Linked DNA regions of Homo sapiens. The protein of the gene in region 7 interacts with the protein of the main gene of each other region in a biochemical or structural test. Each region holds a gene or a part of one and is shown on either strand. Other genes may lie near its edges.

Region 1 (3,500 bases), on a different chromosome or scaffold from region 7:
CCTAGTTCGGTTGCTCCGGCCAGAGTCCACTGGGCTGATTGCTGGCTGCCCGTCCTCTGCCGAGGACACGTAGGCAGGGTTGTCTAGGCCAGGCTCGTCTGTCATTAAGGAGATGGTGGCAGCTGCAGAAACCTCTGGGGAGGGAGCCGTGGCTGTGAGGCTCGCACAGCCGTCTGGACAGCCATCTTGTGAGCGCCTCTTCCTATCTTTGGTCAGGCCGTAGTGGGAGGCACCTTTACAGCTGTAACAGAACCAGCGGGGAGGTGAAGAAGAGCTTTGGCTCTGCTGCCATTCCTCAGTCAGCCCTCTTCAAATACAATTGAAGAATGTATAATAGGCTTGTTGAACTTGGAATTTGATTTGCCTGCCGCTATATCCTCTCTTCCCTTTTCACACATCGGTACTCAATATACATTTGCCAACCAAGTGAATTCATAATTTGAGATTTTTTAAAGACGCCCACTGCATTCTCTTAAAGCAATCTCTACATTGGCTGCTGGAATGCAAATTTATTCAGGTCACCATGGTGTCTACATGAGTAGGGTTTGAGGCTGGCAATGTTCAACTATTTGGTAATTCCTGCTTGCTGGTGTTTATTTTGACCATGAAAGCCCTTAGTCACACCCTCACTCTTCTTTTGGATTTTGTTCCCAGAGCACTGAACGTAAATATAAAGCTCCTCCCAGATTCCATATTTAACTGTTCATGCAAACAGAATCACCCTCACCACAAAGCCACAGGAGTGAGTTCAGCATTGCTATCCTCTAGTGGCAGCTTGGTGGCTTCCATTCTCTTTCTCTGGGCTGGTCTGGGAGGGCCTCCCTGGTGTTGGGGGCTCCCATGATCTGAGAAGTGTCATTCATTGCCATGTTGTCTACCATTAAGAGAGTAAAACAGCTTTTGTGGTTTTTAGCAAAAACATATTTGTCTCTACCCATTCACTATCCATGCTATAAAAAAAAATCCAGAAAACTCCACAAAAACCAAACTTTGTGAGAAAAGCAAGTTATTGGTGCAATAGAAAGAAGTTGAAAAAGAACATTCTCGAGGCTCAGAAGACCAAGGTTGGAGCTGATCTAGGTCCATATTTTGCCATGAACATGAACACTGCCACTCGGCAAGTCATTGCAGCGCACAGGCTAGGTTTTGGTCAGGAAATGGTGATTTAACTATCTCACTCTACTGTGGGGAGGGTAGCTACAGGTAACCACTCCAGTTTCCACAGTTGTGAAGGCAGAAATCATATCACGAGCCCCTTTAGGAAGTGTCCATTTGCATATAATGGATGTGTTAATTATAAATTCTTATCAATTCATTACTCAAAACCCTATATGATTGAGCTATTTTAAATAGCCCTTTGAGATCCTACTTCAGGGATGCTTCATGTTTTTGAAAGTAGATGAAATCAAAGGTCAGTCTACCGTGATATGCACACATGATTTTTACTGCCCATAGAATCATAGAAATGGCAAGATGGAAGGTCCTATTGTCTAGATCTAAATCCTTGCTCTGAAATTTACATAGCTGGGTGATCTAGGGAAATTTTATTTACCTGGCTAAACTTCCAAATTTGCATATACTTTCTGGATTGCTGTGAGGTTTGATCGACATTAAGTCTTATCAGGGGTTTAGTACTTTTTGCCAAAAGTACTAGAATGCAAATTCATTAAAGTCGTCATGGTATCTACATGACTACAAGCAGTTCTCATGAGATTGTCGCTATTTCCATATTTTGTACATCCTAAGATGCTCTTTTCATGCTTTAACATGTCTAAAATCAGGATGCATGTGTGATTGATGGGGTTGTGAAGTTTCTGTTGCCAGGTGGCAGTCATGATGCAGACGTCACCATCCCAGCACTGCAAACCCAGTCGCACGAGTACCCCTTATCACTTCCATTGAGTTGCCTACATACTTGGTATTACACCATTGAGTTTAATTGCCATTTGAATGTAATGATTCAGTACTAAAATGAAAAGTTATAGAAAGCCTCAAAAACAGAACAATTGGATATTGATGAAGTACATATTCATTGTTAGAAGCAGAATCACAATTCTGTGTTTTCTTGCAAAGGGACAAGCAAATGTTTTATCTGCTTAGAAAGATGCACCCAAGGGAATTAAAAGTGGTGTTACATTTTGTTATTGAGAACATTCAAAAAGGATTGCCTATTTCATGCCAAGCAACACAACCAAGGGCAGGAGAAGCTGCCAAATTCATCTGAATGGATTTCAAAGCCACAAGAGTCTAGTTCACCAATCTATGCATCATGGGGATATCTTTGGTGTTTGGGGATTATTTAACTGATGGCACATTTTAAAATGTCATCTTCTTTGCTGTTATATGAACATACCTCTCATAGTCAGTGGCATCTTAGATTAGATGAAATGTGGTTTTAATATTAGTAGAAAAGGAGTTTGGTTATACAACCTTATGTCCTCATCTTCTAGATGAGAAAACAGGCCTCCAACTTACACTGCTAGTGCTTGTCCTCAGCTGGAAGAGTTCAAATTCCTGGCTTGAATTCGTGAGGTTTTACTGTACCGATTAGCTGCGTTGGCTTGGAATCATTCTGTTTAAACATAGTGAAGAGGTTGATCTGGGAAACTCAAAAATTGGTGAAACACTGTGTGATGGAAAAAATAAAAGCCAACTTGCATTTGAGCGGCTCCAACGTAACAAATACTTGAATGAAACACTTCCAGGCAGGCTGGTAGTATCTGATTAGCAGTGCATGGAAAGGAAGTTCCTAGCTGGTCTGGAAATGGTCTTTTCTGAGGAGGCAGCAATGCTCTTGACCATGTGCCCTGCCAGAATAGTAACGTTATTTTCCAGCTGGACAAATGGCTGGCAAAGGTACAAGCCATGGCTTTGTTGGGAGGACACAGCATGTCCTAGTAAAAGAAACTGGCACCTTTCTCTGCTGCCCCATCAATGGGGGTTACAGTATTTTAAAAATATCTGAATCCCAAGATTATGCCATTAAGAAACCATTGCACTTTCAAATTCTTGGGGTTCTAAAGATAAGTTTTTGAGTCCAGGAAAGGAAAACCTCATAAGGTAGGTAAGTAGCCTTTCCTTTGGTCTCATATCACAGCTGTTCTTACAACAGCTGGGGAGGGTGCAGATTCTTGATTTAAGTATTCAGACTCACGTGCTTTGTGTAATAAAGGTTCTGCTAATGCAACTCATACTGTGTAATGTTAGCTTTCTCCAGTCTCTTGGCTTAGCTTGAGCCAGAGACAGAGTGATCTATGAAGGTAGCAGCTTGTACTTACTAATTATCTCTTTTGTGGTGACTAATACTGGGGCAGCTTGATTTACAAGCATTAAAGATGGAAGAAGCGGGGAAGAGCTGATTAGCATTGGCCAGGACAAGAACATACGGTAAACCCTGGGTTGTGTTCAAAGCAAGGAGGATTTATGCTTCCTTTCAGTTACTCTGAGCACTAAGTACTCTCAGATGGTGATGGGTGATGGCCATGAACTTGAAGGATGAA
Region 2 (3,500 bases), on a different chromosome or scaffold from region 7:
TAGTAGAGAAGGGGTTTCTCCATGTTAGTCAAGCTGGTCTCGAACTCCTGACCTCAGGTGATCCGCCCGTCTTGGCCTCCCAAAGTGCTGGGATTACAGGCTTGGGCCACTATGCCTGGCCAAAATTTTGTTTTTTAATATTCAGATAGCTATTATGACATCAGGCCTGCTGGGGTAACCTCACCCCAGGTGATAGCAGGACCGCAGCAAGTCTTGTCATAACACATCCAGGGGCAACATCGCTCCCAAGATTTTGAGCATGAGGAACCTTGCTTAGCATTTCATGAGCACTGGAAATGTAACGGGAAGGCTCACTGCTAAGAGGATTATTTGTATTCCCTAAATGTCACTTATATATGGAATGATGGAACTTTCTTTTCTATGTAGAAATTTCAGCTGATGATCACAAAATGAGAACAATTGGTAATAAATACACGCAGCATTCTTAAATGAGGTATCTCCTAAGGGTTTCATAAGAGGTGGCCAAACTGGCCCCTAAACCATCATCTCCCATCATTCACCTTCAGCCCACAGAAGTATAGTGATCAATTGATTTGAGAAGAAATTATAGGAGTAAAGACAGTAATAGAAAGGGGTACTTCTGCCTGTAACACCCAACAAAATAAGTGAGGGGGCTACAAGTAAACCCCTTAGGGAATTTGGAGGTAATTGTATAATAGGAGATTGTCACCCCACTTCCTACCTGTTTATTTTGTGACTTGCAAAAATTGACTGCCTCCTCCCTTCCCCATGCATGACAGCATTCTTGGGAGAGTCTGATGTGTGCTTCTGGAGTGAGGAGGCCCAGAGCTGGTGTGGGATGTGCTGGAGAAGTCTGAAGATGCAAGGCTGGTTGGAACATCTCTATGGTGGGGTGAGGAGGAGCGGTACAGTGGGAACAAGCTGTACTTGCATCATTTGGAGGGTGGGAGATCAGGAACTCTAATAAGCCAGGTAGATGCTGTGGCTGTAAGTTAAGCTAGAGCTGTCTCAAACTGGCACTGTCCAAGAAGTCTACCAGCCGGGGTAAGGAGACTCAGGGGTATATGTCTGAGGTCAGAGGCTTAGGGAAATAGGTCAGTGGGAAAATCACCTACATTAGTGACTGGTATAGTAAGGAGCACTCTAAAAAATCCACAAAAGTAGCCACAAAGATTCCTTGATGGCCAGATTATACCAGATAATGCCAGTTAAGTAAAATCCTATCCTATTGAATCTTGTCTTTGTCTCCTGGTTCCAAAGACTGAGAAATAGGAGAAGGTGGAATCCTGCCTCCCACCATACCATAGGATGCTCCTTGTGGTTCAGGTCCAACAGGCAGAAAGGAAGAAAGCTTTCATTTATATTGGATTGCATATTTTAGCCCCCGACAAACAAGTTGCTTTTTTTTTTACCCAAAAGTGACCAGAAAGCTATCAGCCAGAAAGCTGAGATGTCAGGGTGTGGAAGAGGCAGCCTCAACAGTTTATACTTGAAGGGGAGAGAAGAAACAAAGCTGTTTTCTGACTGTGCCATGTTGAGCCCCGTCTAGTCAATGAATGTATAGCATATGAAATCATATCTCACAACTGTGCTGGGTCAGTAGAGCAAGTATGCTGGCCTCATTTTAAAAGTAAGGAAAGTAAGGCTCAGGGAAGCTAAGCAATGTGTGTGAAGCCCCATTGCTCATGTGTGGGGAGTCATGGATCCAGACTTGGGCATCAGAGCCCAGACCCAGTGACATCTCCCCTGTACCACAGTGCCTCTGGAGGTGACAAGTGATGTGCCCAGAGGCCCGGCCACTGCACACCTAGAGTCACAGAGGGATGAGGTTCATCTACCCTGACTCCCCTGCTTCAAAAGAGGTATTCCAGAGGTAACACATAGGGCTTCCCCACTTCCCACTTTCCCTGTGGTGTCAGAGGAAGTATTTATTTTCATAACACTTTGGTACAAAGGACTGCAGGCATTGTCCATGCCTCTACTAAGTATTGGCCTTTCTTTTATGGTGTAATCATAGCTCACTGCAGCCTTGAACTACTGGGATCAAGCCATGCTCTGGCCTCAGCCTCCTGAGTACTTGGGATTACAGGTATGCACCACTGTGCCTGGCTAATTTTTTTTTTCTTAGAAATAGGGTCTCCTGCCTGAAACCCCAGCACTTTGGGAGGCCAAGGCAGACAAGGCAGATCACTTGAGGTCAGGAGTTCAAGACTCCTGGCCCACATGGCGAAACTCCACTCTACTAAAAATACAAAAATGAGCTGGGCGTTGTGGTGCATGCCTATAGTCTCAGCTACTAGGGAGGCTAAGGCAGAAGAATCGCTTGAACCCAGGAGGCGGAGGTTGCAGTGAGCCGAGATCACGCCACTGCACTCCAGCCTGGGCGACAAAGCGCGACTGTCTCAAAAAAAAAAAAAAAAAAAAAAAGAAAAGAAAAAAGAAAAAAAGAATAGGGTCTCCCTACCTTGCCCAGGCTGGTCTTGAACTCTTGGGCTCAAGCAATCCTCCCAGCCTCCCAAAGTACTGAGATTACAGGCATGAGCCACCGTGCCTGGCATAGTGTTGACCTTTCTTTGACAACAAACTTAAGACAGTGTCCTGTCATCACTGTAACTTTCCCCAAAAAGCTCCTCTGCCTCTGCAGAAAGAGAACGAGCACAGAATTGAGAGCCGTATGCATTTGGCTGAAGACGAGGAAAAGCGTGCGCTTTTTTCTGAGTACAGACAAAGGAGTGATTTTACCAGGAGAGACAAAATGAGAACCAACTTTGCCTTCAAAGCAGGCCCATACCTCAGCATGGCGCCGAAGCCCTTCTTCTTTATTTTCCTTTCTGGATCTTCATTCTCCTCTTTGCGCTTTTTCTCCTTGACTTTCAATTTGCCCTTTTCCTTTTTCTTCTCCTTCTCTTTCGTTTTTTTGACTTTCCTGGCTTTATTTTCCATGTCCTCTAGCTCCGAATTCCCCTGAGGGGCAGACTCACAATTCAGAGCTCCTTGGCCAGAGTGAGAGCTCTTATCAGACAGACCGTCTGTACAGAGAAAAAATAATCAATACCCATGGTCAGGGGCACACTCAGTTAGTATACAGAGAAACGCTAACATGTAAAATGCAAAAGAATGAATAACAGCACTCTGTAGTTCTACCCTTCTATGTGGTTACGTGCGCCCTTTGAAGATCTGACTGCCTAAATCTGGTTACTTCGAGCAAGACTTGATGCTGGGAGTGGGGACAACCGGTTGCTTAGCTGGTAGTATGAAAGGCTTGATATGTGTTCAAGCACTAATCTCTCTGAAAGCTGCCTTGTTAACCTTGATCAGCTCAGAAAGCCTGCATGCTGGGAAACAAACAGGGTGAGAAGAGAGTTTTGAGTACAAAATATCCCAACTGCTTCTACCCAATTAATGCAGTCGGAGTCCTTGGATTGATGCTGCCTCTAATGACTCGAATGAGAATGTCAAGAAATGCATACTTAGTGCTCCTACCCTAAGGGTAAATGACAGTTGGTCCTTGTAGAAAA
Region 3 (3,500 bases), on a different chromosome or scaffold from region 7:
GAGGTTGCAGTGAGCAGAGATCATGCCACTGCACTCCAGCCTGGGCAACAGAGCAAGACTCCATCTCAAAAAAATAAAAAATAAAAAAAGAAAGAAGTAAGAGTCAACCTCATTAAATATCCAATTTGTCACTTAAGAGTACAATAATACCCATTTTTTACACACCTTCCTGCCAGTTCCTTATCCAAGTACTTGGCAGCTAGTCTCGCCCCATATACTTCAGCCTGGAGAACAGCTATATGTCTACGAAGGGCTTCATTCTCTTTTCTCAACAATTTCACTTCAGCTTCAAGTTGTGCTTCTTTCATTTTTTCTTTTTTGTTTGCCTCAAGCTCTCTTTCCTATGTAATTTTTAAAAGCATATAATTTAATGAAAATAAAAACTCTTTAGCACTAGACCATGTTCCTGAAAATGCACAAAAGCCTACAGTTCAACAATGTATCATCTCTATAAAATGGAACACAAAGATCTGGATGTAGTTCTTTTGAACTAGTACCATAACATCTTGGAACTACTTCTAGATAAAATAATTGCACGCCATGGGTTACCCTGATATGGAGTATAGTAAGAAAAGTAGTCTACTCTAAGCTCATGTTATCACATATTAGTAAAAGTGGCTTCAATGGATAGTTGAATCTGCTATTTACTTCTAAAACCCTTTTGAGAGTTAAATAAGGACCCCAATAGACATTTTAACTGTTATTTATAGATCAAAAAAACCACGTAAACACTGAAAACTTGCATTTATCCTGAGCAGAACTGCTTTTACAGAATCCACAAATCCTATGAAAACATGGTTACATTTGTTCACAATATGTGGAAGACATTATTCCCTATACCCCCTTTGTCCCTTTTGTGAGGACGTAAATAAAAACCTACCTTAGCACCAGAGAAATTGTTTCTCTTGAGGAAATGATGAATAGTATTGTTTCTATTGTATGGGCACTGATTATTTTACATAATTATTTCCCTTTTTATTCTGGATATTGAGAAGCTAAGAAACAAATTTAAGCAAATTTTCAGCAATTCATGGAATATATTTTGGTACTAATTTAATGTGCCTCCTTTGGTCTACTGTTTTGAACAACATCAAAATAGATATATTTGAATACTAGTCAATAAATACGATAATCCTAAAAAAAATATATTTACATATACACACACACATACAAGCTAAAATTAATGACAACTACTAAATGCTAGATATATTTATCACTTCTTTGATTAAAAATATTTGTTATATATATGACAAACAGATGAAAGATTAGCAGACTCAATTTCTGGGAAAAAAAAGATTAGAACGTAATTTCTAGATACTGGTTTTAAAGGATTCGAAAAACTCAATCTAGAATCCTCCTTTTAACATAATTTTGGAATTATTAAACTCTTATTTCAGAACCTATGTCCTAAAAGGGCAAGTATCTGTTTCAAAAGAAACCAGTTTGGAGATACAAACAAAAATCTTTCTTATGACATGTTAAAGTTGATGCAACTTTTGAAAGAGCACTCCTAGACCAAGATTTCTTTGGCTTATGGGCTAAATAAACTTTATGTTGATGATTACCTACTTTCAATTACTTTAATGAGCTATTTATACTACATTAATGAAATGTGGGAGACATACTAAGCTACCACTCACTGGGGTTTTAATGATTCAAATCCCTAATGAATCTGACAAACTCTTGGGCCCGAAATTAACAGAGGTAAGCAAGAATAAGATGAAGGAAACTGAAGTTAACCATTTCTAGATTTCCAGAAAAAAATTTTCTTGGTTCTTAGTTAACCTGTTTGTTACTAGGTAACACCCAAGATGTTCATTTTACATTTAGATACCAAAGATTATATCTTCAAAAGAGGTAAAGCCATAAGACAAATTGGAACTTGATTAGGTTGGGGTAATGAGAAAAATATTAAAAATGTATTGTTATTTTCTAAAATAACTTCTGCTAAAGCATTTCAAAATTCAATTGTTTCAAAGGCCATACGATTATTCTCAAGACTCTTGAAAAGTTGTAACGCAGTAGATGAAGAAGAAACCAACATGCACATTCTTTTCTGGAAATAATTTCAAACAGAAACTTAAGGGGGTTAAAAACTAAGCCTGCTTGATATATCTTCAATACCCTGAAGTGGGAAAACCAATTGCTCTTTGAAGTAGAGGTATGAGCAAGCTACAAGGCTCAAAAATTGTCAAAAATTGACAGGCTCTGCAAATAATGGCTATAAATCACTAACAAAAGAAAAATGTTTAACAACATGCAGTGAGAAAAGAGCAATGGGCCATCCACTGAACTTTTCAGGTACTGGAACATTAAAAAATTGCCATTATTAATGCTATTTTCAAATACAATGAGTGACAACATATAATATGCAAATAAAACACTAAGAACACTTCAGCGTGACATATTAAAGCAAAACAGAAACAATATACTTACCAGCTCCTCCACAGAGGGGCCAGACTTCAGATATAAGAAAAAAGTTTTATAATTAGAAAAAGATCAAACAAATGATTTTATTTAGTGGTATAGTCATTATAAGGAAAAATCCCACATGTTGGATATCATTTGGGTAAAGTTCATTAGAACAAATATATTTGCAATCTATAAACAATAGTAACTGTAATAGCATTAGATTAAAACTTTTTGTTTTATCAAAATTAGTCAACATAACTGGTACAGTGTTCTTTTCATCATACTCTTTCAAATTCTAATGTTAAAACTTCAGGTAAATTCTTTTCTAGAGAAAATTTAGATTGTTTCTGAATGTTAATGTCAAATAGCTCGAAGAAGCAGTTATGAGCTTTTATTTCAGTTAAATAAAACCCTTCTAACACAGATTCACAGAGTTAGAAAACTTAAGAGTTTAACTTAAAATTATTTTCATGAATTTTAACACATCAGTACTAGGAACTAATTAACCAAATGAAATTAACTGAAAACAAATAAAACTTATAAATGTATTACTCTCATTATATCATCAACATCATTTCATGTCCTGCCTCTGCCAAGCAATAGCTGTCTTATTTATTGCTGTGTCCCATATAGGAACAAAATATCTGCTATCTCTTACACACTCAAAACATATGTGGTACACAGTGGCAGGAAAAATGCTTACAATATATTAAGAGCAAAAGAAAAGAATGTGCTACTGGTTGGTACCCAATTCCATTTCTTACTTCTTCCTTATTAACAGACTCCAGTTTTACTGGAAGTGGCCATATGGCCAATAGGAGACTGACATGCAGCTGGGGATGGTCAATGAAATGCTGGCAAAAATTACTGAGAAAGATTTAATAATAAGTTCTTTAAAGAAGGCTAACATCATGGAGAAGCATCTTTTTGCCCTTTCCTTAGATTAATCCTTCTTCCTGCCTGAAATGCAGACATGAAGAAATCCTGAGGATGGAAACCATAAGCTAAAAATGGCAGAGCACAGTGATGGAAGGAATCTGGATCTCTAATATTTGTGGAGCTGCCGTATCAACTCTAGACTGCCGGTC
Region 4 (3,500 bases), on a different chromosome or scaffold from region 7:
ATGTCCCAGCCCCGTAGAGGAAGTGGTGTGTACCGTGTGGCTTCACCCCCGAGCAAGGCCTCTCCTTGCAGATGCACAGGCAAAGCCTCCTCCCCTTCTTCCCACAGGGCCTGCCCCGGTCCCTGCCACCATCCCCAGCCTCTCCTACTTCCCCCATCACAGAGACCCTCTGAGCTGGTTTGGGGGAGCCCTGCCTTCAGAACCTCCCGCTGTGCAAGCTGCCCAATGTCTGATCGCTCACACCGAATCCTGAGGGCTCATCCCAGATTGACTTATATCCCGCAGAAGCAGACTGAATGACTCTTCTGAAGTTTAGAGTGTTTCTCCCATCCACCTTTGCTGGCCCTTTGGTCCCTGGGTGTGCACAGAGCCGGCAAACAGCCTGATGAGGAGGCCCCGGAACCAAGCCTCATTCCACCCTGATAGGGATCAGACGGCGGGTCCAGGCGGACACGGAGCCGGCAATGAGCAGTCACCAGAGGCCGCAGGCCAGGGCTCCAGGGACTTGCTTGTTTTCACGGTACTTTCCCTGAGGCCTCCAGCCTCCCTGTGACGAGGCTCCACTGCCCTAGGCCCGGCCCTGGGGACTGAGCATCTGGTGGCTCATGGGGAGATCCCAGGAGTGATTCCTGCTCCAGCACCGCCTCCCTGCTGGCTGGCTCGGCGCTTGTCTGGTCCAAGCCCCTGTCACTAGGCGTCACGGCCCCTCTGCCCTCCCCATCCCGGGCTCTCCAGCAGAGGTCGTGCTCCTTGAACAGGGGTGTGAGAGCGCGTGACGGGCATATAGCACCTCAGCATCACATCCTCCACACCTGCTGGGAGCTCCCTGGGCTGTGGGCTGTGTAGCCCATGTTTCTCAAAACAGCCCTGGAGGCACCACCCATGCAGGACCCACAGCCCTGGTTGCCACCCTGTCCGGTGCCCCGTGCTGATGGACCTCTCACTGCCCCCTTGGCAGCACACTGACCCCTCACTGCCCTTCCCTCGAGCCCCGGGCCCTGAGACATGTCATTGAGGAAATTATAACTGGATGCACTAAGTGGCACGTTGCTGGCCTTCCAGGAGGTAGGGATGGGGGCAGCATCTTTCTGGAAGGCCCCAGCCACCAGGCTCTGAACCAACTAATTACTGACTCCAGCCCGGCTGGGAGGCCGTTTCTGCCCTCAGAGCCTCCAGTGACTGATGCTCTGAGTGGGTGGGTGAGACCCAGCAAAGATGAGACAGATGCTTTTCCAGCACAGGCCTCCCGGCTGTGACCCCTGACCTGAGGTCTGAGTGTGGGCATGGAGGCCAGTGGGCAGCCGCGGGCATTTTCTGCAGACCCCGCAGGTGCCTGGCCCTGTGAGGCACCCTGGGGCTTCCGCAGGCAAAACAGGTGCAGTTCCTACTCTGGGGCACACACGGAGTGGGTGTGGCAGAAGCTGGCTGCGGATGTGAGTGGACAGATGCTGGGGTCACCGTGTGGGGTGGCCAAGTGGCCAGATGCCCAGGCTGCCTGGGGCAGACCCCTGCTTTGCCCTTTGCCTGCCCGCCTGACCTAGGCAAGTAGTTCAGCGTCTCGGGACTCAGTTTTCCCACCATAAAGACCTGAGAGTTAGGGACGACAGTAGTTTCTTGTGGCTGCCATAACAAAGTACCACAGACTGCATGGCTTAAAATGACAGAGATGTTTGCTCCCATGGTTCTGGAGGCTGGAAGTCCTAATCAAGGTGTCAAGGTCCTAATCAAGCAGGGCTGCTTTCTTCTGGGGGATGTTGGGGGAGTGTCCCAGGCCCCTCTACTGGCTCTAGTGTTTTCCGCAGTCCTTGGTACGCCTCGGCCCTTAGACCCCTCTCTCTGCTCTGTCTCCATCATCTCATGGCCTTCCCCTCTGTGAGACTGGACTTCCCTCCCTTAAAGACAACACAGACACACTCTGATGTCACCGTAACTTCAGGACACCTGCAAAGACCCTGTTTCCAAATAAAGTCACATTCACAGTCACATGGGGTTAGGACTTGGCCGTATCTCTTGGCAGGGATACAGCTCACCACAGCACCCCCCTTGCAGGGTGCCCATGAGCATTCAATGGCCTGCCTGCCTCAGAGGGAGCACAGGGTGGCATTCGCTGCCATCTCTGGTCCTGTGGGTCACAGCGAAGCTCCTGTACTTTGCAGAGACTGTCACCTCCCTGCACGTGCCAGACGCTCCCATCCCTCCATGCTTTGTCTCTTGCTCTCACCTGCCTGCACGTGCCAGACGTTTCCATCCCTCCATACTTTGTCCCTCGCACATTTTCCTTGCTCATCTCTACTAAGCAGCCTCAGGGAGTGAGTACCTGCTCTGGGCTGGGCCCCACGCTGGGGTCCCGAAGGTTCCCACCCTGGAGAAGGTCCCAGGCTGTGTCTGGCATTCAGCCTCCTCCCCTGCTGGATGTGGGGCTGTGGTTTCTACTCAGAGAGCTCTGGTGAGAACTGGGGATTGTTGCCCATCGGCAGACACCAATGCAAACCCAGGCCAGCTCCACACCGTTCACAGAGGGCAGGGCCCAGGCTGGCCTCATCTGTGCCTCTGCACCCCTGCCCTCGGGGTGTCCAGGGCTCGGGTCCTGCATCTGCCTGCTGCCAGCACTGCCACATTTGGGGCTTTAGGCAGCTAGCCTGGGGGTGAGGGTAGAGGGAGGTGGGAATAAGCCTTCTCAGCCCTCCCAGCACTCACCCTGTCGGGATGATCAGGAATCTGCCCCAGCCTCTGGGGAGCCTCCCTTCCTGGGTACCTGCTGCAGCCCTGCAGGATGCTGTGTGTGCAATGGGGCTTTTCCCCTAGGGCCAATTATTGTCCTGTTTGTTGAGAGGCGTTTTAGAGCCCAGGCATCACCACTCGGCGGAGGAGGTGTTGTTGTCCCATTTCCCAAATGGGGAGACCAAGGCTCAGAGAGCTTCACTGACCTGCCCACGGTCAGGCAGATAATAAGTGGGTCCTGGACTTGGGATTAGCATCCTGGTCTGTCTGGCTCCGTGCTCCGTAGTCAGGATGGCGAGTGCAAGCTGGGAGTCATCTGACATGTCGCAGGCAGCCTGTCTCATCTCAGCAAATTGCAGCGAGAGGTGATCATCATCACCTCTTTATGGCTGTGAATGGGTGCAGGCGCCGGTGACTTGGCCAGGTCACAGGGCCAGGATTCAAATGGGAGCTTGAGGGACTCCAGACCTGTGTTCTGTCAGCCACACACTGGCTCTGCTCCTCGCTGACCAGCCCCACCACTGCGCCTGACTCCCCCGCGTCCTAGCCCCACCCTAAATGCCCGCCTGTGTCTCCCTGGCTGCAGACACCCGCTGTTTGGCCGCAACGTGCCCCTGTCCAGCGGTTCTGGCTTCATCATGTCAGAGGCCGGCCTGATCATCACCAATGCCCACGTGGTGTCCAGCAACAGTGCTGCCCCGGGCAGGCAGCAGCTCAAGGTGCAGCTACAGAATGGGGACTCCTATGAGGCCACCATCAAAGACATCGACAAGAAGTCG
Region 5 (3,500 bases), on a different chromosome or scaffold from region 7:
GACAGTTCAACTAAGGAAACGGTAACAATAATAGCAGAAATAGATTTTATCAAAATATACAGTGATCTGTGACTCCTTTTCTCTCAGTTAAAAACAGTGCCTAAAACCCCTAACTTTAGCCTGCTTTTAGGGCTTAAACTTTCTAGCAGAAAAGGTATTTTTAAAGGACTGGCAAGGTAAAGAACAAAGCTTCTGACTACCTCCTTCTAACAGTGAAATACATTTTATCTTCAAATACTCTGAGTGACACTGAAGCACTGCACCTACATTTTTTGCTGGTGGTGGGAATGGGATGGGCATGAAAGCATGTAGAAGGGCAAGGAGAACGTACATTTTTTTAATGCCATTCTAAAACAATTATAACAGCATATAGGAGTGGAGGGCTCTGCTGTGAGACCATGACTTGGCTCAGGGCTGCTCATCCAATCTCTTTCCAGACCTTCCTTTCTTTTTGTGTAAAATGAAGCCCTGACTCTGCAACTAGGATCTCACTAGATACTGAAGATATAGAATTCTTGGATGACTAATTTAAATTTTGTTTGGCTCGTAAAGGAAGGAATATATCAAACAGGTTTTACACTCTAAAATAATATAAAATTGGAAAATGGATGGTCAGGGCTTTGTTTTTATAACCAAGCAAAGCAAAACACGCATAAAAACATACCATTCCTGAAGTTCAGGAGAAGGAATGAGACCTGCAGTTCCATTTTTGGAGTTTTCCAGTTTACCCTGCCACCAATTATGATCATCCTTACTAATAATCTGGATGATGTCACCAACTCTGAATCGAATGCCAGCTTCTTTACAGGGGATGAGGTCATCCTTGGCTGGATCATATTCAAATTGTGCTCTTACATAGATCTATAAAACAGGAGTTCGTAAGAAAGGATGCCATAGTGATGTGAAAGAGAAGTTAGCTCTAATGTCATAACCACACACCAACAGTTACAATACAAACAGGACATCAGATGGTGAAAGCAAAAACGATGCATGGAAATACGACACAAAAAACTTCTACCGCTAGAAACAATGTACTAGTAATCTTTGATGAGTATAGCTTCAAAACTTTGCTGTTTTTATTTGGAAGGAACACTTGAAATACTTGTTTAATAAAAATAAAGACTTAATTTATGCTTTTACTGTAACAGAATAGGCCTCTAATTATAGAAAAGTATGCTCGCTCTTTTTTAAACCTGCATTGGTGATGCTGGCATTATGGATACGTTGTCATGACTGCGTGGCAGCCTTTAAGCCATAAATACTAGCAGTCAGGATAGGTTTTAACCCTAAAGCAGCACACGATATAAAATTAGCAAGAACTCTGGGTTGGTATCTTGCTGTAGAATGCTTATATGACAACTGGCAGTGTGTCTACACATTGCTGATAAAGTTAAGTGTAACTCAAACAATTTTTTAAAAGTTAAAAAAAGCTTCATTTTTTTCTAATTTAGGTTTTAGGTTTGTATTTTACTCTTCTGAGAGAATAAAAATGAATTTGAACCCTAGCTTCCCCCAATGTAACACTTGAAATCAGCACAGAGCTTCAAGACATGCATAGTTCAAGGCTCTGAGTTTTATGATATGTGAGTTTACTTAGGAAATAGATTAGCATTCAAGGGTTTATTATATGGCAGCATTTTATGAATTATTTTATTTTTTAAATGCTTTAAGATAAGGTAATTCATACCCAATGTTCCATCAATTATACAGTCTTAAGACAAAATTATGGGTGAATTCTATCAGGTACTAATTTATACATATCTTAACACTAAATCTGATTATTTTTAATACCATATTTCAAGATAAAAATCCCATAAAAATTCTATCTCTTGAAATTAAAATTGAATATTAATGTTTAAGTCACTGTAAAACCAACCTGAAGACTTTGGAACCACTGTGTGATTTTTCTGTTTATTTTCAGCAATCCAGCCTATAAAATTACAAGTCTCTGCATTTGCATTTAAAATCTATACCTCTAAAGTGCTGGCAATTTGAAAGTTACTTGCCAGTGTTAGGCAGCACTTAACTTTTCATGTTTGAACTAACACAGGTATATCAGGATGTGAAGCTAAGATAATTTATATTCTTTTCTTATTTTTCATTGCAAATGGCTTTTAGAAATACACATGCAAATACAAATTTAAGAAAAAGCTTTCAACTTCAGAAAATTTTTGCTTAAAAATGTTCATCAGCATTTTAAGAATAACTTTTTAGTTAGTCTTAGAATTCTAAGAATTTTATAACCTTTAAAATTCTTTTGCATGCCAGAGGCAGGCCCACAGCCACCCCCAAAGGCTGAATTCTTAACCATTAATATAAAATTATCAGGTTGAAATTACAATAACCATTACAGCTACAAAGATGTGAGGAAAAATTCTTTATAGAGAATTAGTCATGTGTAATGTGTTAAAATGAAATGGTACAAGCTCTCAATGCTCAAATGTTATGGTCCAAAATGCAAACATTATGGGATGGAAAGGGTTAATAAAGGATTGGCTATTAGCTGCTCAGTTTAGAGAAGTTTCTATAGAGGATATCTATTCACCTGTCGTCCTTTTGGTTGGGTAGTTGATGGCAAGTCCTGTAGAATAAAGCCAACCCAGGAGAAAAATTTTCATTTATTTTTCAAGAGTACAAAGTAATTTGTGTGTTCTGTTACAATATGGTTAAAAAAATGAGCTAGATTTAAGTTGTAAAGAGATAATATACATTATTCCATTTATCAGAAATGTTGAGTTATCAAAAAGTCAAACCCAGGCCATTTAGCAGCAAGCTGAAGAAAGCAGGTAAGTTTAAGCAGAGAGAAAATGTGTTCTTAAGAAACAACTCAGCATCTTCAACACAAAAGCCACTGCAAGTGAAACAGCCTATTAAAAAAAAAAAATAAATAAAAGGAGCTGTTGCCCTTTTCAACTTAGTCACTGCAACCATTTAGATTTTGAAAAATTCAATGGCTATATGGCTTTTCATCATCTTAAAAGTATTAAATGTTAACTGTTATGAATGAATTCCTTTGGTAGCCTATTTTAAAGTTGAAAATAAAGTCATAGACAATTTTCTTTCATAATTTCTCTTACGATATACTTAGAATATCATTCCATTTGAGATAATTTCTAAATTATTTACAATTTTACCTGATAAAAAAGTTGATATATTCTCAAAGGGCAAATTAAAAGTCAGGAAAGAAGAATACTGCTGCATTATTAGAACTCTCAATAATTTTAACTGGGTCATAAACAGCAGTATTAGCAACCAAAATATTGCCAGTCTGCACCTGTTAAGTGCTTCCATTTGTTTAAATAAGTTAAAAACAATTCTTTCTATATTCCAAAATGGATAGTTCTGAAAAAATTTAAAACTCCAAGTTCAAGTCAAATATAAAGTACTTTGTGTTAAAGATGTGATAACAGCGTGGCTTAAGTGCAGTTTGAAGCCAGTTCTTTTTGCTTTTCATATCCAGGCAAGGCTTATAATTCACAAAAATATGTGCACGTACCACA
Region 6 (3,981 bases), on a different chromosome or scaffold from region 7:
ACCCCTCAGAGGCCGCAGGCGCTATTCGGTGGTCAAGCGGTCAAGGGCAGCCTACCCCCACTGCCCAAGATAGGCAGGAAGGAGGCTGGACACACCCTCGGCCTGCACGGCCTCCCCTGCCGCCTCCTCCCACGCTGGCACGCACACACCCCTGTCCCTGACATGCTTCTGGCATGTGTCTCCTTCCCTGCCCTTGGCCCCGCTTGCAGCCCGCCCCCTGCGCCCCACTTTGCTGGTGACCCAGCGTGGCCGTGTCCCAGAAACCGCAGAATCACCGCGGGAGCTACTGGCCCACTTTGCCAGGCCACAGAAAATGCAGCTAAAATTAGCTAAGGACAGACAGGTGGACAAACTGACAGGCATCCTGCCCTCCTGGCCCCAGCCTGGCCCCTCATCCCAGGGCCGGGGGGTGGGGTTGGGGAGAAGCTGAGGCTGACACTGAGATGTAGTAAGGGGGAGAGGGAGGTGTGGTGAGCCTGGAGCGGGTGGAGCTGGTGACTTCACTCAAGTGTGGCTGACAACGCGTGGCATGCCGAATAGTGCTGGGGAATCTGCCGTCCCAGGGGAGCAAGGGGCACTGAGATGGGGGTGTCATGGGCAGAGCATTTGGCCTAGGGTGTCCCCAAGGGAACCACAAGAGGTGGCTTTTGGAGACTGGGGCATCTTGAGAGGGTGTGCGGGTAGGTGGGGAGGTCGGCCTGGGGAGTGCTGTCCAGGTGACAGTGGTGTGGTGGCCCGGGTAGATGTGGGTGGCTGCAGATGACCTGTAGCTCTTTTCTAGGACTGCAGGGTGGGTGGGCTGGCTTGCTGGGTACTAGGGGCTCCACTCTGAGGACTGGGGGTGTTAGGAGGGAGGCTAAGAAGTGAGAGGAGGGTCTGGGGAACTGAGTGGGGGATCATCTCTAGATCCTTGCTGTTCTCCCTTGAGGTGGCCTTATGAGGGTGGAGCCCCTTCCAAATGGGGTCCGCCTCCCTTCTGTTCTCCCCCAACTCCCACCCCAGCACCGGAAACCAGAATGTCTGGTCTGGTCCCTCCCCCCAACACCAGGCCCGGTTCCTGCACCGTTGCCATGGAGATGGGAAGCAGTGGAGGGTACTGCTGACTTTGGGGGAGTGGGGATGGGCTGGGGGGTTGGGAAAGGGAAGACTAAATGTGTGTGGTGGGAGGAGAGTTCCAGGAGGTGTGGGCGAGCGAGCCTCTAACCCAGGGCCGGCGGACCCCTCCCCCACGCGCGGCAGCGCTGCGAAGCCCCCTCCCCCTCCAGGTACCCAGCCACGCCGCCCCACCTCGTCCCTGCGGAGACCCCGGCTGCCTCCTCCCTGCCCCGCCGCACAGCCCACCTCGCGATCTGGGGCCCGCAGACACTCCCCCTCGGCTGACCCTGGCTGACCCCCAGCCTCAACCCCGCTCGGAGGGGGTGGCCGGTGGGATGAAAGAAAAGCTGGCTAGGGCCCCCCGCGCGTACGGCTGCCCCAGCCCCCCCGGGCCGGCTCCGGCCCCTCCCCCTCAGGGCTCGCGGGAGGGAGCGGGCACGCTCCGCCGGGGCGGCATGAATCAAACGCTCCGCGGCTAAGAATAGCTGGCACGCAGCTGGTACCGAGACGGGCTGAGGAATCGGCGAGGGGGGTGGTGGAGGACGCGAGAGAGGGGGTGCCCTGGGAGGCTGTGGGGGGACAGGGGGCGGCTGGCGTGGCCGAGAGCGGGGCCGGGGAGAATGAATGGAGGCGGAGGGAGGCGGGGAGGGGCGGGGAGAGAGAGCCGGAGCCGAGGCTGGGAAACTGGTGGGGGAGAACCCGGCCGGGGAGAGGGGCGGGGGGCACCGGGGAGCAGGAGTCGGGGGCGGGAGCCGAGGGGGCGCGCCGGCCGGCGGTGTAGGGACTGGAGACCTGGTGGGGACGCAGGGAGCTTGGACAGGGGTGGAAAGGGACTGGAGGAGCCTGGAAGGAGAAGCGGGAGCTGGAGGGGTCGAAAGGGGCGGAGGAGGCCCGGGCCTAGACCCTCGCTGGAGGGGAGTGGGGACCAGGGTGACCTGGCGGAGGGGCCCAGGTACGCCAGGGAGGGCGAGGCGGGGGAGTGGCCGGGCTGGGCGGGGAGGCGGGTACCAGGACCGAGCCCTTGGCCCCGGAGAGCCGGGAGGCGGGTTCGGGATAGGGGCTCTGCTGGCCGGGGGTGGGGGGCGCGCCCTCCCATCAAGGATGCGATCTGGGACGGGGCACCGGGGACCCGGGCGTAACCCAATTTGGTGTCGCCCAGGGCAACGCTCCCCACCTCACCCGTACCCCCAGCCGCACACCCAGGCCAGGAGCCCGGCGCCGGGCCAAGGACATCCGGGGCGCCCTCGCCCCCTCCCGCGGCCCCGGCCCCGCAGCTGCCCCAAACCCCCAGGTTCTCGACCCCCTTACCTGCCTGGCGGGGCTGCTGAGTCCCGGTCGGCGGCGCCCGCGGCCCCTCCCCCCTCCCCCCACCCCCCACCCCCCCGGAGACGGGGACCCTCAGGCCATGCCCCACCGCCCCGGAGGGCGAGCGGGCCCGGGGAGGGGGCGGGCGGGGACCGGGGGGGAGGGCGGGAGGGCCGAGGACCTCACCCCCCCCGCGGGCCGGGCCTGGCCATCCGCAGAGCGCCCCCCCTTCCGCCGCGGCCGCCGCGCCCCTCCTCGCCCGCCCCCGGCTCGGTCCGGCCGGCTCCGGGCGCCGCGTCTCCGCCTGCTCTTCCTCCTCCTCTTCCTCGGGCCGCCGCCGCCGCCGCCCGCTCCGCGCCTCCTCTGCCACCCTTCTCGCTCTCTCGCTCTCGCTGTCTCTCCCTCACCCTGTCTCTCTCCCTCCCTCTCTCCCTCCCTCCCCTCCCTCCGCCCTCTCCCCTCCCTCCGGGAGCCGGCGGAGGAGACATCGCCCCTCCCCGCGCCCCCAAACCTCGCCCATCCCCCACCACCGCCGGCTCCGCCCCCTACCCTTGCCCTCCCCCACCACTCCTCCCCACCTCCGAGTCCCCAAATCCTGACTCCGCCCCTGCTTGCTCCCATACCCCGAGGAAGGGGTCCTGCCCCCATAAGGTGCCCCCCCACACACACCTCAGGACCACCCCCTCCCAGAGAGCTCCCCGCCGCCCTACACAGAGTGGGGCACAATAAATATTTGTTGCCAGACTCTACACCCCCAAATTTAAGTGTGAAGGCTATAGATTCCCACCCTGTCCCCCCAAACACACACACACCCTTTCCATTTAAGCACTGGGTCAGGGCACACGTGGACATACCTGGGCCAGGCCACATTTCCCCAAGGCACAGGTGCATAGTCACCAGCTGTAACGGCACCTGCAGAGTCCCCACATACACACACTCTCCAGCGCATGCATGCCCAGACACAATGCACCTGGGGTACACAGCTACAAACACACCCAGCTACATGCAGTTGTCACACCCCTGTGCCCGGGCACACACGCAGCACATGCACACATTTGCCCACCACACACGCACGTGCGCGCGCACACACGCACACAGGCGTTCACCCCGGTATGCATGCCCAGATCTCTCAACACCAAAACGGAGTTACAGCACTGTAGAGACGTGTGCACGCCTTCCCATCACACCCACCCACCGTGCTGTCCATTGCACTGGCTCGCACTCACCCGTTTACATGCCCAACACCGTGCCATCCTTCCCCTCCAGGATAGTTACTGCTGACATTCCTGGAGCACTTTCTGTGTGCCAGGCTCAGGGACTTTCGCCATCCCCATTTTCCAGAGGGGGAAACCAAGGAACAGAGAGGCTAAGTAACTTGCCCAAGGTCATCCAGCTGTAAGGAGGTGGTAACAAGGATCAGGAACAGGTAGGCTGGCTCCAAAGTCCTCACTTGACAACTATGGTGCACTACTGGGCATATCCCCTCATAGTTGCATATCCTTATTCATCACACACAGACACACCCAACCGTCTCCTCAGAGTTTGCACATGTCTGTGTAGGCACGCATATGCAGCCAGCTG
Region 7 (3,500 bases):
CATTTTCAATTCTCTTGGGTGTACACCTAGGAGCGGAATTGCTGGGTCATATGTTCATATACAATAATGCTATGTTTAACCATGTGAGGAACTGCCAAACCATTTTCCACAGTGGCAACACCATTTTACACTCCCTCCAGCAATGTCCCAATTTCTCTACATCTTTGCTAATACTTTCATTGTCTGCCTTTTCAATTATAGCCATCCTCATAGGGTAGAGGTGGTATCTCAGTGTGGTTTTGGTTTGCATTTTTCTAATGACTAATGATATTGAGCATCTTTTCATGTGCCTACTGCCATTTGTATATCTTGCTTTGGAGAAATGTCTATACAAACAGGTTGAGGAATTTGGCTGAGGAAATGGAAGTGCGTGTGGCTAGGGAGGAGTCCCTCTGCGGGGCATAAACACTCAGAGGAAGCAAGGAACTGTTGAAACAAAACTGACACCTGACGAGGAGACGGGAAATTGGCCTAGGGAAGAGGAGTGTCATGGGACACTCAGTGGGAGTCACTTTAAAGGCAAGGAGGAAATAAGGCAGTTCAAAGCAAAGGCTCCCAGAGGAGGTGGAGGGGACCATTTCTGAGCCTCAGCTCCTCTCACCAGCCGCAGTGGGTTTCCTGCTGTAGTCTGGGCTCCATGCCACAGGCTTTCTGTGCACTGGCCCATGAACCCTCTCCACAGCTCCGTCCCTTTGGTGTCTTATTATCTCTATGCTTCTGATAAGGACACCCAGGCTCAGAGGAACTAGCTTTGCTGGTTAGCATTGGTCCCAGGACTCAAGCCCAGGTAAGTGTTAAACTCAACATCACTCAATGCTCCTTGTACAAGTTTGACAGGGGGAAGAAGCACAGTGCTTTTCTCTGTCTTGGCCCACCCAAACCTAGCCAAGTCACTTCATAGGTAGCAGTGCCAGTCCACCAAGGGGCCAAGCCAACCAGGTGAGAGAGCGGGAGCTGAGGCTGGGAGCAGAAGTCCTTGACCTGGAGCCCCAGCTCTGAAGGAAACCCAAGGAATGGATGGGGGAGAGGGGTGGAAGCCTGTGGGCCAGCTCAGAATGTGAGGCCCCCGCCTCCAGGCCAGACCCTGGACCCTCCACTTAGCTTCCTGGGTATACTGGTGGCATCCTTGCTGTGCCCCAGCCTGTCTAGCCCCAGTTCCAGCCCCCTGGCCTCTCACCTGCCCACTCATGGAGCCTGCTCACCTGCCTCAGGTGATCTCCCACTCCAGCCTCACCTCTGGCTCTCCCTGAAGCTTCAATCCCAGCCTTTTCTGCCAAGGCTCAAAGCCTTCCTGGGAGTACTTTATCCTTTAGAGATATGGCTGTTTGTGGAGGGCAAAGTCCACAGCCTGTGCCTCTGGGCAGGGGAGGGAAGCACTGGCCACATTCCTCCGGGTTCTGAGAGGAGCACGAGTCATGTATTGGGGGTCAGCTGGTCACTGAATGGGGCTTGTCAGGCAGGCTGCCCACCCCCTCCGAGCCTTTCCTGTGGGCTGGGGTCTCTGCTGACGCGCTGACAGCAAACCTTCGCCTCCCTGACTCAGGGCGGAACTCCCCTTGGAAGGATGGTCCAGTCCAGGACTGCGTGTCCTCCTGTGGAAGGGCACTGAGACCCTGCCCTGTGCTGTGGGGCCTTTGTCAGGGGCCACCCCTGACAGGAGGATGGGACGGCCATGGGACTGAACCTGGGCTGGGCAGGCGGTTGCCTGCGGGAATGAAGGGACCTGGGGCAGAGAGCCAGGCCCTAGTTTAAAAAACCCAGTCCCTCTCTCTCCCAGGTGGGCAGCTAAGTTTTGGGGTCCCAGGTAGGCCAGGTGGCTCCAGGGGCTAGGGACCCACAGCCCGAGCTGGCCCGCAATGGGTCTGTGTGTCTGACTGTCAGTCGGTCACTTGGCTGATCACTCATGCAGGCACATCGTGTCCACCTGCTGGTAAGCCAGCCAGCCGGCGGGCTACTGTCTTTCAGGAGAGCTGTCCGTTCAGGCCGTCAGTCAGCCACCTGCCTGCAGCTCCTCATAAGACAGTCAGACAAGTTCCTGAAAGTCTGTCAGCCACAAACTTCGTTTCCCAGGTATCTGGTCAGTCAGAGACTCACCCTTCAAGGGGCTGCCCTTCATGGGTAGAGTCAGCCTTCTCCACACCACCTGAGTCTGGGTGATGAGGAGCAAGGTTTCAGAGACCAGCCTGACTGCAAGGACCGCCTTCCTTTACCTGTTCTCTGTGGGAAAGGCCCAGGATTCTGCCTCCTTTGGCTGCCTCCCAGCAGCAAAGGACAGATCTCAGGGAAATGTGAGGCTGAGAATAGGCTTTAAGGCCTCAGACCTGGGTTGGAATCCCAGATGTGCTACAAGCCCACTGTGTGAGCCTGGGCACATCCCTGAGCTTTCTGAGCCTCAGTTTCCCCATTTGTAAGGTGAATATAACAGTATTTACTGATGGAATTCAGGACACACTATTCTCCAAATATGGCACCTTGGCCACATTTGAGAAAACAGTAGAAGCAGGTCATAAAACCTAGGATAGTCACCCCACTCTGACCTTCTCCCACCTTTCACCCTGAAATAGGTCATAAGATTCTCATTTGAGAGTTGCTGTCTTTGTACCTGGAGAAAAAAAAAACAGCCTTAACTTTGAAGATGCAAGGACACAGAGAAGAATCTGAACAAACAGGCCTTGCTAGGTTCCCCTAAGTGTATCACCATTAGCTCACACACTCTTTGTGCAATACTTCCACAACTATATACTTCTTCATCAAACTTGGCATAAAAAGTCACAAGTTTTTGACATTTTAGGCTAGATGATTAAAAAATAATAAACCAGCCTGGGCAACATGGTGAAACCTCATCTGTACTACAAATGCAAAAAATTAGCCAGGTGTGGTGGTGCATGCCTGTAATCCCAGCTACTCGGGAGGCCGAGGCAAGAGGATCACTTGAGCCTGGGAGTCAGAGGTTGCAGTGAGCCGAGATCATGCCACTGCACTCCAGCCTGGGCGACAGCGTGAGACCCTGTCTCAAAAAATAAATAAATAAATAATTTAATTTAATTCAATATAATAAAAACTAAAAAGTTTAAGAATACACACGTTTTCCCATTTCTTTGGGTCTTCATTTCTGAAGGCCCCTGTGTCATGTAAAACTTATATTAAATAAATTTGGGCCAGGCGCAGTGGCTCACGCCTGTAATTCCAACACTTTGGGAGGCCGAGGTGGGAGAATTACCAAGCCCAGTAGTTCCAGAGTAGCCTGGGTGACATGGTGATACCCCATCTCTATGTAAAAATAATAATAAGTAAATTAAATTTTTAAAAGCCAAATAAATTTGTATGCTTTTCTCCTGTTAAGCTGTCTTTTGTTATAGGGACCTCAGCCACCAGCCTAGCAAAGAGTGAGGACAAGAAATCTCTTCTCCTCTATACGACCTCAAAGAGGTAAGGCCTTTGGGGCAGCTGGCCTGGCATATAGGTGGCCCTTGCTCTCTTTTCCTGATAAATATTCAAGC

Evidence for each region.
Region 1: the proteins of SLCO2B1 (region 7) and LNX1 interact in a test that uses a peptide from one of them, tested with the Homo sapiens proteins (one large-scale study listed by IntAct).
Region 2: the proteins of SLCO2B1 (region 7) and PARD3B interact in a test that uses a peptide from one of them, tested with the Homo sapiens proteins (one large-scale study listed by IntAct).
Region 3: the proteins of SLCO2B1 (region 7) and GOPC interact in a test that uses a peptide from one of them, tested with the Homo sapiens proteins (one large-scale study listed by IntAct).
Region 4: the proteins of SLCO2B1 (region 7) and HTRA3 interact in a test that uses a peptide from one of them, tested with the Homo sapiens proteins (one large-scale study listed by IntAct).
Region 5: the proteins of SLCO2B1 (region 7) and CASK interact in a test that uses a peptide from one of them, tested with the Homo sapiens proteins (one large-scale study listed by IntAct).
Region 6: the proteins of SLCO2B1 (region 7) and SHANK1 interact in a test that uses a peptide from one of them, tested with the Homo sapiens proteins (one large-scale study listed by IntAct).

Annotation. Positions count from the first base shown.
Region 1 is NC_000004.12:53,507,987-53,511,486, forward strand, and holds part of LNX1 (E3 ubiquitin-protein ligase LNX), read right to left. Parts: intron 242-3,500; coding exon 1-241.
Region 2 is NC_000002.12:205,300,975-205,304,474, reverse strand, and holds part of PARD3B (partitioning defective 3 homolog B), read right to left. Parts: intron 3,012-3,500; coding exon 2,774-3,011; intron 1-2,773. UniProt on the Homo sapiens protein: Putative adapter protein involved in asymmetrical cell division and cell polarization processes. May play a role in the formation of epithelial tight junctions.
Region 3 is NC_000006.12:117,575,012-117,578,511, forward strand, and holds part of GOPC (Golgi-associated PDZ and coiled-coil motif-containing protein), read right to left. Parts: intron 2,461-3,500; coding exon 2,437-2,460; intron 342-2,436; coding exon 166-341; intron 1-165.
Region 4 is NC_000004.12:8,283,254-8,286,753, forward strand, and holds part of HTRA3 (serine protease HTRA3 isoform 1 precursor), read left to right. Parts: intron 1-3,307; coding exon 3,308-3,500. UniProt on the Homo sapiens protein: Serine protease that cleaves beta-casein/CSN2 as well as several extracellular matrix (ECM) proteoglycans such as decorin/DCN, biglycan/BGN and fibronectin/FN1.
Region 5 is NC_000023.11:41,553,055-41,556,554, forward strand, and holds part of CASK (peripheral plasma membrane protein CASK), read right to left. Parts: intron 2,582-3,500; coding exon 2,546-2,581; intron 862-2,545; coding exon 665-861; intron 1-664. UniProt on the Homo sapiens protein: Multidomain scaffolding Mg(2+)-independent protein kinase that catalyzes the phosphotransfer from ATP to proteins such as NRXN1, and plays a role in synaptic transmembrane protein anchoring and ion channel trafficking.
Region 6 is NC_000019.10:50,717,003-50,720,983, forward strand, and holds the start of SHANK1 (SH3 and multiple ankyrin repeat domains protein 1), read right to left. Parts: upstream 2,801-3,981; 5' UTR 2,404-2,800; intron 1-2,403. UniProt on the Homo sapiens protein: Seems to be an adapter protein in the postsynaptic density (PSD) of excitatory synapses that interconnects receptors of the postsynaptic membrane including NMDA-type and metabotropic glutamate receptors via complexes with GKAP/PSD-95 and Homer, respectively, and the actin-based cytoskeleton.
Region 7 is NC_000011.10:75,157,607-75,161,106, reverse strand, and holds part of SLCO2B1 (solute carrier organic anion transporter family member 2B1), read right to left. Parts: intron 1,276-3,500; exon of another isoform or gene 1,178-1,275; intron 1-1,177. UniProt on the Homo sapiens protein: Mediates the Na(+)-independent transport of steroid sulfate conjugates and other specific organic anions.